Regions from separate parts of the Homo sapiens genome. Here region 2 is linked to region 1. The links come from fine-mapping of genetic effects on gene expression. A gene starts in region 1. The other region holds a variant in brackets. All regions are shown on one strand. Distances are from middle to middle. Region 1 holds the start of CPNE4 (copine 4). Region 2 has its middle 31 kb from the start of ACP3.

Region 1 (5,381 bases):
TTAGATAAATTTGACCATGGCTGTAGAACCCAGCAGCTCAGAATCCATTAAAAGGAGAGCTGGGAGGAGGTGAGTGATAGAGACAAGGGGATTTTGATGTTACAATTGTTGAGGGGACTGTGGCTGGCGGGCAACTTGCTGTGGGGGCAGTGATTGAAAACATGGATTATTAGCTGGTTACAAATCTTCATTTGTACAGATGAGCTGTTGATTTCATATAAGAGGTGGAAGTAAATTCTGCTTTATGTGCCCTGTAAAAAGCTTCTTTGAATTTACCTTCAGTGTCATGCCTTCAGAAAAAAATTCCAAGTTTCTGGCATAAAGCTGCACGTTTTCTGCGCACTGGCATGCAGGCAACTGTTTGTTTCTAATTACGGAGCTGAAGCCTGCTGGCAAAGGAAACCATATTTGTCACAAGTTGTGGCATTGTGTTTAGTTTGTGTATCTATGCTTTTAACATGTAGGGCCAAAGATAACTATGTTGTTTTTCTTTTTCCCTATGAGCATTGACTCTATAACTTCTTTTCTATGGTCCATGTGTTCACTTATTCTAGCTGCCCCTTTAGAGACTGCTTCAATGAACAACCCCTATCCTCCCATTAACTAGTTGTGTTCCCTGGTCTGGTCATTTCAACCGCCCACACCCTGGATTTATTTTTGTAGATATAGTAAAACTTTCTTGGGCAGGTTGTTGTAAAAATTAAATGGGATGGTAAGTAGAGTGCCTAACAGATTGCCTGGAAATAGTACATGCTCAGCACATCTTAATTCCTTTTCTCTCACCTGTAATATAAGAAGTTTATGTTGAATGGTCCCTAAGGTATTTATATTATTTTTAATTTTATAAATGTAGAAGGTGGTAGACACCTTTCTAGGCATTGGGGTTATAATTATGAACAAGACGACAAAACAGACATATCCCTTGCCTTCATAGAAATTAAATTTTAGAGGATACAATTAACATGCAAGGAAATGCACAATGACTTTTCCTTCTTCTTCCTTCATCTTTGCAAGTTCAATCCAATTCAAATTTTGAGTTTATCTCTGAGGCTACCTCTTAACAAAACCTGGAAGTAATGTTTTTGGACTTAACATTTTCATATTTAGTAGTCATACACTGGTTTTGCCTGCTTAGCATCCGTCTCCCCTTTCCTGGTAGGAGGACCCTGAATATCCCTTGGAGAATTGTCCCTGTGTCTCACTCGCAATGTGTGTAGATCAGGTGGGGCTCCATCCTGGCTCCAGGAGTGCTATAGAAGACATCACATGCTCCTAGACATTGTGGAAGTCCTGGCCCATTAGTGTAATTCCATATCCAAAGGTCACAACGATTGACTTATGCATAGCCATGTGACCCAAGTTTTTGCAATCAAAGCAAATCCAAGGATTTCTGTGGTAGTTTCAGTGTACAGAGAAGCTCCCTGAGGTCCTTTCCAGGGTCCATGTTTAGTGTTATCCTATTTCAGAAAGGCTTTAGAGGTGACTGAAAGAAGAAAAATGTTATTTGTGTTCTGTCAGAAGGTTGTCCCTTTGTTTATCAAAGATATTTCTGTCTACTTCTATAGAACAATTAAGAGGGGGTCTTCCTCCTTACCCTATTGGTTCTCCTTTTCTGGACTTTGAAATTGAGAACTTCATGGTTAGTGAAAAGATTTTGGCTAATATCTCCTCCAACCTTCAGGTTGGAGAGGCTTTGTTAGATAGCCCCTTAATAGGGTGAGAAGGAAGACCTTCCATCTCCCCTCCACGTTAGATGTAACACACTCTATACCATCCCAATGTCAGAAAGAGACCGTCATTCACTTTACTTCATTAATTCCAAAGTCCAATTTGTGAGTCTGACAATACCAATGTGCAGAGAGAATTTAGTTGTCTAGTTTGTCTATGGTAGCAGACATAATCAGAAACAATGCCCTGTATTTGAATAAGTTCATTTGTCTGAATTTGAATAAGTTTGAAATAGGAAGGCCATACTTTCTCTCTAAAGTGCTTTAAAACATGTGGAAGTGGTCACCCCTTACATAAGACAGCATATTTATATCTATCTTTAAGCATAAGTACTCCCTAAGTATTTCTTTATCTTATTTGTGAGGTAGATGTATTCAGAAACTCATCATGAGATGAAGAAAATACTCTTTGTCCATTAATTTACTCATGCATTACTTACTAAAAATAATTTCCAGGCTCCTGCCATACGCCAGACAGTTTTGTAGACACGAAGGATCCAGAGATTAGCAACACCTTTACCATTTTTGGTGACAGTTAAGCACCCATCTAAGAAGTTTTCTTTGGTGAGTGCCAAAAAGTGTAACTCCCATTCCCCCCACACCCGCGCCGCGATACGACCGCTCCACCCTAGAGTGGAGATGGAGACCAAGCACTTGGAGATCTAAATCAAGTGTCCCCAGGAGCTCAGTTGAGCGACAAAGCTGAGCAGAAAGCCCAGACTGCGGGCGCGGCAGGACCACGGAGAGCGCCGCCGCCAAGGCCTGGGCGGGGCCTGAGCTCGGGTTCCCGGGGCAATGCTCGTCTCCGTCAGCAACCCCCAGGGGGCGCTCGCGCGGAGGTTTCGGAACCAGTCTCTTGCCGGGTTGCTGGGTGCATGGGATTCGTCAGAAGGTGGAAATCTCTCTGTGAGAAGCTGCCATCTCCCCGCCACCCGCTCGTCCCCTTCTCTTTCTGCCACCCTCCTTTCCTTCCTCCCTCGCTCCACTCCACTCCCTCCCTCTTTTCTCAGTACCCTCCTCTTTACTCTCCGAGTTAACTGAGAGCCGACCTGACATCTCCAACATTTTCACCCTCTTCCCCCACCCCCATCACCGAGAATGGAGTCAGGGTTTCCGGAGAGACCGAACTCTGCTCTCAGCACCTTTCCCAGCCGCTGTTGCTAAACTGACCTCGGAGGACGAGAGGGGAAGGAGGTGCGACGCCCCTTACATCAGTACAAAACTACCACACCAACCACCTCCACTTCAAAGCCGGATTTTGCATCCTGGGGGCGGGACAGACCTCGTCCCGGGCTGAATTCTCTCTCCACTCTTCGAGATTGGCACACCCAGGTAAGTAAATGCCAACTCTTCATTCCTGTGTTCCTGGGGCGCTGTGATTGCAAAGTCTGTTGGAGCTGCTGCGTAGCAAGACCAACTTTTGAGATGCACTGGTTCTCGCTCACCTTTGCACGTTTGTCATTGCTGTTGTTGTTTTAAAAAGCAGCAGCAAGCAACGTCTTTAATCTGAAGGGACTTCCATCCCCTACCTCTCGCCTTCTGACATCCACCCAACTCGCCCAGGTGGGGTGGGGCGAATGGAGTTGGGGAGAAAGACCGCGGAGGGGAGGGGACAGCATGGCACGGGTGAGGGATAGGTCAGGGAAGTCCCGAAGGCGGAAGAAGGGGTACGGTTTTCAAAATCGGGGAAGGGGAGGGGAAGGGAGTTCTGGCTGAAGTTGCAGCTTCCTCTCTGACAGTGAGAAAGCTGTGGGACATTGTAGTCCCTTCCAATGGCTTGACCTGGCTGCGGTTGGATTCAGCCTCTCAACCTCCTCCCCCACACTTCTTACAATGAGGTTCTAATAATATTTTAGTTGCCTCTTCTCAGTGTTAAAAACTAATGAATAGGCTTGCAAGTGCTTTGATTCAACGTAGTCCTTCAGCGCTTCTTCCTCTATGGAATAAAGTAGCCAGAAGGAAAGGGGGACGGGGACAGGGGACGGGACTGGAGGGACCACTGAAACCAAGCCACAGCTGAGTAAGGAGATCACGACCCCGCGTGGTATCACAGACACACGAGAACTGTTAGGGCTGAATCCAATGGAGATAATTAGGAGGTGGTCCACGCCAAGTCAAGCGAGTGCTGATTACCATCCGGTGAGGAGCAGGCTAAACCCTGATGAAAAATGCTCCTCCTTCATCTTGGAGTAGGTGGGCTTTAAGGCCCTATTTCCCATTCTATGTTCCAAATCTGACGGCGCCCCAGGGCGCCTTGGCGGATTGCCTTTCAGCCCCAGAACCTGCTAGGCTCCAGGGAAAGTCACAGGCGGCAGAGATGATCCAAGGGGCGCAAATCTATGAAGGGCTTGATGTGGGTGGTTGGGAAGTGGAGGGGGGAAAGGTGAGCAGAGTGAGGCGGGAGGGGGCTAGGGAAGCGAGAGTGCTCTGGGAAGCTTTGCAAGAGAGACATCTGAGAACCTCTCCCTCTACACACACACACACACACACACAGACACACACACACACTCACACACTCTCACAGGATTTCAGTGACTTGTGGGAAAAGATGCCTCAGCACCTTTACACCCTGTGTTCAAAACTATGCAAAACCAACTCTTCATCCTCTTGCTGCTTTGCCAGGGATTTTAAAAGCACTGTTCTGGTTTTTCTTGGCTCACTTGGTTTTGTTTCCTGAACAGCACTTTTGAGCTGTCCAAGATACTTTAATATGTTATCTTTAAATGAAACTAAATCCTGCTCATTCGCGCGCCCCCGCGCGCACACATACACAGGCGTACACAATTACCTTAACTTCAAATAAAGTGTTCTTTTCTCCATACTCTTCTATTCCCTTAACAATCCCTGTTCTCAAAGGCCTTTGTGTTTTATTTTCTGCTTTATAACAAAACAAAAAAACAAACACCCACCGTCCTATGACACAGGTGTTTTGAATCCATGTCAATTTTTGTAGTTAGTATATGCTGGTTAAACCACATAGCATATCCCCCAAAAAGCCAGAGGCAAGCAAAAACTTAATTTGATGCCCTTCAAGTTTCGGAAGGTCCCATTTCTTTTTATTAACCAAAAGATAAGATGAAGCTCAGCATGGCTATGGCTGTGATTAGATAACTTCTGATATTTTCATTTCCCTTACCGAGCTGCTGCTTCTAGGCTGAACTCATTCACCTGCCCATTTTTAAAGAGAGACTGACAAAGTCACTCTGGCAGGTCAGGACTCAGAGTTAGTCAAAAGTTCTCACATGTAGAGAGGTGCATAAAATAGAGGGAGGGTTGGAAAATGCAGTCAGAACACCTGTGTTAATAGTGCATACTAATAAAGGCCAACATTTTCTCAACTATCTCTCATGGGAAGATTCTTATGGTTTTAGAGGATCAAACTCAAAACACATCAGAATGAGGTGACTTTTCCATTAACATTACATAAAAGGATATATTGGTCTATAGCAATAGTAGATGTTTAATCCTGGGCAGTTTTGTATGATTGTGTGAGAAGAGATTGCCTATAATTGAACCAAACCTCTACTTATGTGTTAACAAGTAAAAACTCCCATGGCCATCAAACTTATGCCTTTCCTGTGAGTGGTCAACCTTATTTTTATTCTCCCAGACACAGGCCCAGCATATTTGACTGGGAGAAGGCACAGATGCGGT
Region 2 (5,381 bases), 250 kb before region 1:
TAACCAAATAAATAAACAGGATAATTTCAGATAATGATGAAACCATCCCTATAGACTTCAGAAAGTTAATCAGAGTAGAAAAGAGGGGGAGAAATAAAAATAAAGCAAGATCGCAGCACATTCACCATTAATCATGAGGTCAGCTTACTCTCTGACCTGCCTACTAAGAGTTATTCACTGCCTGTTACCCCAGAATCACACAGACCTGTCACCACTTAACTGTTCTGTAGATAACAACTTAAACATTGTGAAATGTTGTTTTCCATTTGAGATATTCTTTCAGGTCCTGCATACCAGTGAAACTATTGATGTCAACTGGTCTGAGGGACCTCACTGAGGCCCCATGAAAAGCTGACTTAACAAAGAATGCAATTTCCACATCCTGATTATTTCATTACGCTTACCTGACCAATTAATGACCTCAATTTTCTAGGCCCTTGCCCTCCATGATCCCCTTAAAAACCCCAGCGCAGAACATCTTGGGGAGATGGATTTGAGTCTCCTCCTATCTTTTCACTTGACCACTCTGCAATCATTAAACTCTTTCTCTGCTGCAAACCCTGTTGTCTCAGCCTATCAGTCTGATACTGCACAGCGGACATACAAACCCATTGGTCCTGTAACAGTGAGAACTACAGTGAAGACAATAAAATAAGGTGACATGACTGTGAGTGACTTGAGGTGGGGGATACTTTAGATGAGTGGTCAGAGAGGGTTTCTATGAGGTGACATTTGAGGTGAGACTTGAATGCAGGAAAGGGGAGAGCCATCAGAGCATCCCAGGAAGTGTAAAAACCCTGAGGCAGGGAGTGAGATTGTGGTCTCAGAGGAAAGAAAAAAGGCCAGAGTGACTGAAGAATTGTAAAAATGGGAAAGGGCAGGAGCAGACAAGGTCAGAGAGGTAGGAAGGTGTTGAATCACCCAGGATCTTGTTGAGGCCATGGTGAGGAGTTTGGATTTATTCAAAATGCAATGGGAAGCCAAATGGGGAGTTCTAATCAGGGGAGTGATATGCATTAAAAATTCTGTGGCTGCTTGTGAAGAATGAATTATGGAGAAGCAAAAAAGGGAATGAGAACAGCCAGGAGGCTACTGTAGTGGCCCAGGAAACAGATGATTGTAGCTTGGATCAGGGTGGATTTGGGGAAGTCAAAAGAAGTGAATGGACGAGAAAAATACATACTAGTATTGGATATGAGATGTGAGGGAGAAGGGTGAGAAAAGGAAAAAAGGAAAATAGCTCAGAGCAGTCTGAGCTATGTGAGATATGCAGAATTTATCAGGCTCAGAGAAACATGAGTATGGGACTTCAGTCACCTTCTCCGCTATGTCTGGGACAATTGTTTAAAGGTATTTTGTTCTTGACTAGCTGCTACATCCATTTTCTTCCTGTTTTTGTGATACAAAGAACAATATATAGCCAATCATTAGCTTATGTTATTTTAATGTAAATTCTTGGTAAACAACTTAGGAACTGCCTCTTCTTTTACTCCTTAAAACTTCAACTAGTAACTGCTACTAATCAGGGTGTATATTTATGGCAACTTGAATCTATGCCCCCATGTGGCCATCCTCAAGCTTTGGACTCCTATAAACTCTATACTTAATTTTTCTGGTCCTCATTATTTAAGGCTAACGGGAGAATCAAGGGGCACTCCTAGGCATTGGGCTTCAGAAATTGGGTGAATGGCAACAAAAGTGTCAGACACAGATGATGAAGCTTCAGAGAGACACAGGTTTATCTTATTCATTTAAGACATACTTTTATATCTCTTACTATCCTGGTTCTCAACCTTAGCCTCACACTGAAGTTACCTTAGAATTAAAAAAATAGGCTGCGTGCAGTAGCTCATGCCTGTAATGTTAGCACTTAGGAAGGCTGAGGTGTGAGGATAGCTTCAGCCCAGAAGTTCAAGATCAGCCTGGGCAACATGGTGGAAGCCCCATCTCTACAAAAAATAAACAAAGGTAGCTGGGTGTGGTGACTTTCCCCTATCTATAGTCCCAGCTACTCAGGAGGCTGAGGTGGGAGGATGGCTTGAACCCAAGATGGCTGCAGTGAGCCATGATTGTGCTGTTCTTGGATCTCACGCAAGAATTTGAGGCATATCCATAAAGTGAAAACAAGTTTATTGAGAAAGTAAAGAAGCAAAAGAATGGCTACTCCATAGGCACAGCAGCCCCAAGGGCTGCTGGTTGCCGATTTTTATGTTTATTGATTATATGCTAAACGAGGGGCGAATTATTCATGAGTTTTCCAGAAAAGGGGTGGGCAATTCCTAGAACTGACAATTCCTCCCCTTTTTAGACCATATAGGGTAACTTCTTGAAATTGCCATGGCATTTATAGACTGTCATGGCACTGCTGGGCATATCTTTTAGCATGATAATGCATTATAGTTAGTGCATATAATTAATGTACATGTCTTTGTGACCTGTACTTTGTGCCAACCTTTTATCTGATCCTGTGACTTAGAATGCCTAATCTCCTGGGAACGCAGCCCAGTAGGTCTCAGCCTTATTTTACCCAGCCCCTTTTCAAGATGGAGTTGCTCTGGTTCAAAGGCCTCTGACAATGCCACTGCACTCCAGCCTGGCTGATAGGGCAAGAGCCTGTCTCAAAACAAAATAACAACAATAAAACCCTGTGCCTAATTAGTTATTAGAGAATTTTTTGGAGATTTTAATTTAATTGCTATGGTATATGGGCTGGATATCAAGATTTTTAAAAGCCACAAGTGATTCTAATATGCCTTAAAATTTGAGAAGCACTGACTCATTACCTGGCTGGTTCTGTTTCAAATGCTTTACAGGTGTTAATTCGTTTAATTCTCATAACAATCATGAAAGTTGATCATAAGAATTGGGTCATTCTTGTCACTCACAACTAAAACAGAGTTGAGAAGCCAGGGGGAACAAGCACGCAGGGTACAACATTGCTGAAAGAATGTAATTCTCTGCAAGCCCAAACTGCTTGTTGTAACCTGAAACCAGTTTTATCTC[A/TTA]TCTTCTGAGATAACGTGCTGCAAAGGCTAGCACTAATTGTGCCCACAGCCACCATTCACCAGTTGAAGCTTTCTGACTCCCTAAATTCTTTCTTATGCCAATGAACTTTCTCAAAGAAGAATACATAACATTTCTCCTTTTTTATAAAACTGATATCGGAATAGGGCAGGGAAGTGCTGGGCGGAGAAGGGCGGGTCCCTGGCGAGGGCTCCACCCCCAGGCCTGTGCCCACGGACCTAGGTGAGGACAGGCATTTGTTTTCAGGTCCAAATGTTACATTTCCCAAGACCACCCTGGCCCACCATGCCCCCATCCCCCCATCCTGTGCCTATAAAAACCCTGAGACCCTAGTGGGCAGACACACCAGCGGCTGGACATTGAGAGGATCACAGCAGTGGAAAAAGACACAAGCACCTAGCCGTTGAGAGGAACGCACTGGCCTAAGAACATACTGACAGACGCCGGTAGGCCAGCAGGGCGGCAGGCCATCAACCCGCGGAAGGACACGGACTTTGGCCAGGGCGGTATAAGGTAAGCCCCGCTGCTGGGCGGCCTGGCTCCAGGGGAAAGCAACCTTCCATTCCATCTCCCTTCTGGCTCCCCCATCTACTGAGAGCTACTTCCACTCAATAAACCTTGCACTCATTCTCCAAGCCTACGTGTGATCTGATTCTTCTGGTACACCAGGGCAAGAAACCCCATGATACAGAAAGCCCTCTGTCCCTGCGATAAGGCAGGGTGTCTGATTGAGCTGACTAGCACAAGCCGCCTACGGACGGCTAAACTGAAAGAGCACCCTGTAACACAGGCCCACTGGGGCTTCAGCTGTAAACATTAACCCCTAGACACTGCTATGGGGTCGGAGCCTCACAACCCGACCGTCTGTCTGTATGCTCCCCCTAGAGGTGTGAGCAGCGGGGCACTGAAGAAGCGCGCCACACCCCCGTCACACGCCCTGCGAGGGGAATAAGGGAACTTTTCTCGTTTCAAAACTGCTAAGCCGTTCTTTGCTATTCGGACATACCCGAAGACCACCAGGTCTGTATGTATGGCCCAAATTGCAATTCTTTCTTCCCAAATAAAATATTAAATTTATGGATTCATCTCTACATGTTTATTTTGACTTTGATATAATTATATGAGAAAGGTACTATTATTAACTCTCATTTTATAGTTGAGGAAATTAAGGCTCAGAAAGATTAAGTTGCTCGTCTAAGGTCACATGACAGAAACGGAGCAGGGATCCCTCTTAGGGCCCCCCTCCCCCCCTTGCCAAGCATGGAAATAGAGGAAAATATTGAGTTCCTTCCGGGGAAATTCTAGGCAGTGAACTAGCCGCCTCACTAGCCCTGAGAAGTAAATAAGCAACTTGATAAGCAAGAAGATAATAGTAGCTGAAAACAATAGCCAAGGTAGTTAGAGTCCTGAGATGTTTGGTTCCCTATAGAAACTAAAGACAACATCTCAACATATGTCCCTGAGCTACTTTTCAGAAACACAGACCCCAGCCAAATGGATCCACTGGCATGTAGACCTCAGATAAGGGGCGATTGAGAACTGAACTCTGACTGCCGTTCTTTTTTCTAAACTTCTTCCTTAGGAGCCTAAAGGACGTCATACCCATGGGCCAGACCTAACATTCCTTTCTGCTGATCCCAAGTTTTTAGACAAAGTTTCCCTTCCTTAACCAATTGCGAATCAGAAAATCCTCGAATCCACCAATGACCTGTAAGTTCCTGCTTCAATATATACTGTCTTTTTAGGCCAAATCAATATATAACCTCCACATATGCCTTAAAATTCTGCCTGTAACTTCTACTTCCCTGAAATTTATCCCTGCTTTTAAAAACTCTTGCTTGTAAGCTATTGCGAAGGTTGGCTCTTACAGTGTGAGCTGCCTGATTCTCCTTGCTTGGTGCCCTGCAGATAAATGCCTTCTTTTCCCCCCTGCTGCAAAACCTTGGTGTAGATGTTTGGCTTTACTGCACTGAGTGAGCAGACCCTGGTTTGGTTTGGTAACATGACTTAAAAATTACAAAGAAAAGGAACAGGAACACAGCTCTCTGGTCCTCTGGTATTTAGAGCTGAAACAGAGGAGGAGGGGCCTGAAAACATGAAGGCAGAACTTAGAAGGGAAACAGGAGAGTGTAGTGTTGCAGAAGCTTGGTGGAGAGAGTATTTCAATGAGGAAGTGGTCAGCTTTTTTGAAAGCCCTGAGTGTTTGCTGAAGAAAGACAGAGACAGAGAAGTGACCACTGGATTTGGCAAGATGAGGTCGTGTTGAGTCTGATGGGAACAGTGCCTGTGGAGTGGTGGAGATGGAAGTACAATCACAACTGATTGAAAAAGGAGTGGGAGCTGAAGATGTAAAAGTAGT

Evidence for each region.
Region 2: its variant is fine-mapped to the expression of CPNE4 in stomach (GTEx, PIP above 0.99).

The regions. Positions count from the first base shown.
Region 1 is chr3:132,032,245-132,037,625 of GRCh38, reverse strand. It overlaps CPNE4 (copine 4), which reads left to right and starts at 2,612. Exons shown (of 16, transcript NM_130808.3): 1 at 2,612-3,059. RefSeq lists a silencer at 2,388-2,487 and an enhancer at 2,863-3,032.
Region 2 is chr3:132,283,394-132,288,774 of GRCh38, reverse strand. No RefSeq gene overlaps it. Among named protein-coding and RNA genes, the nearest start is that of ACP3, 31 kb to the left of the region's middle. The variant A/TTA (reference allele first, on the strand shown) is at 3,004.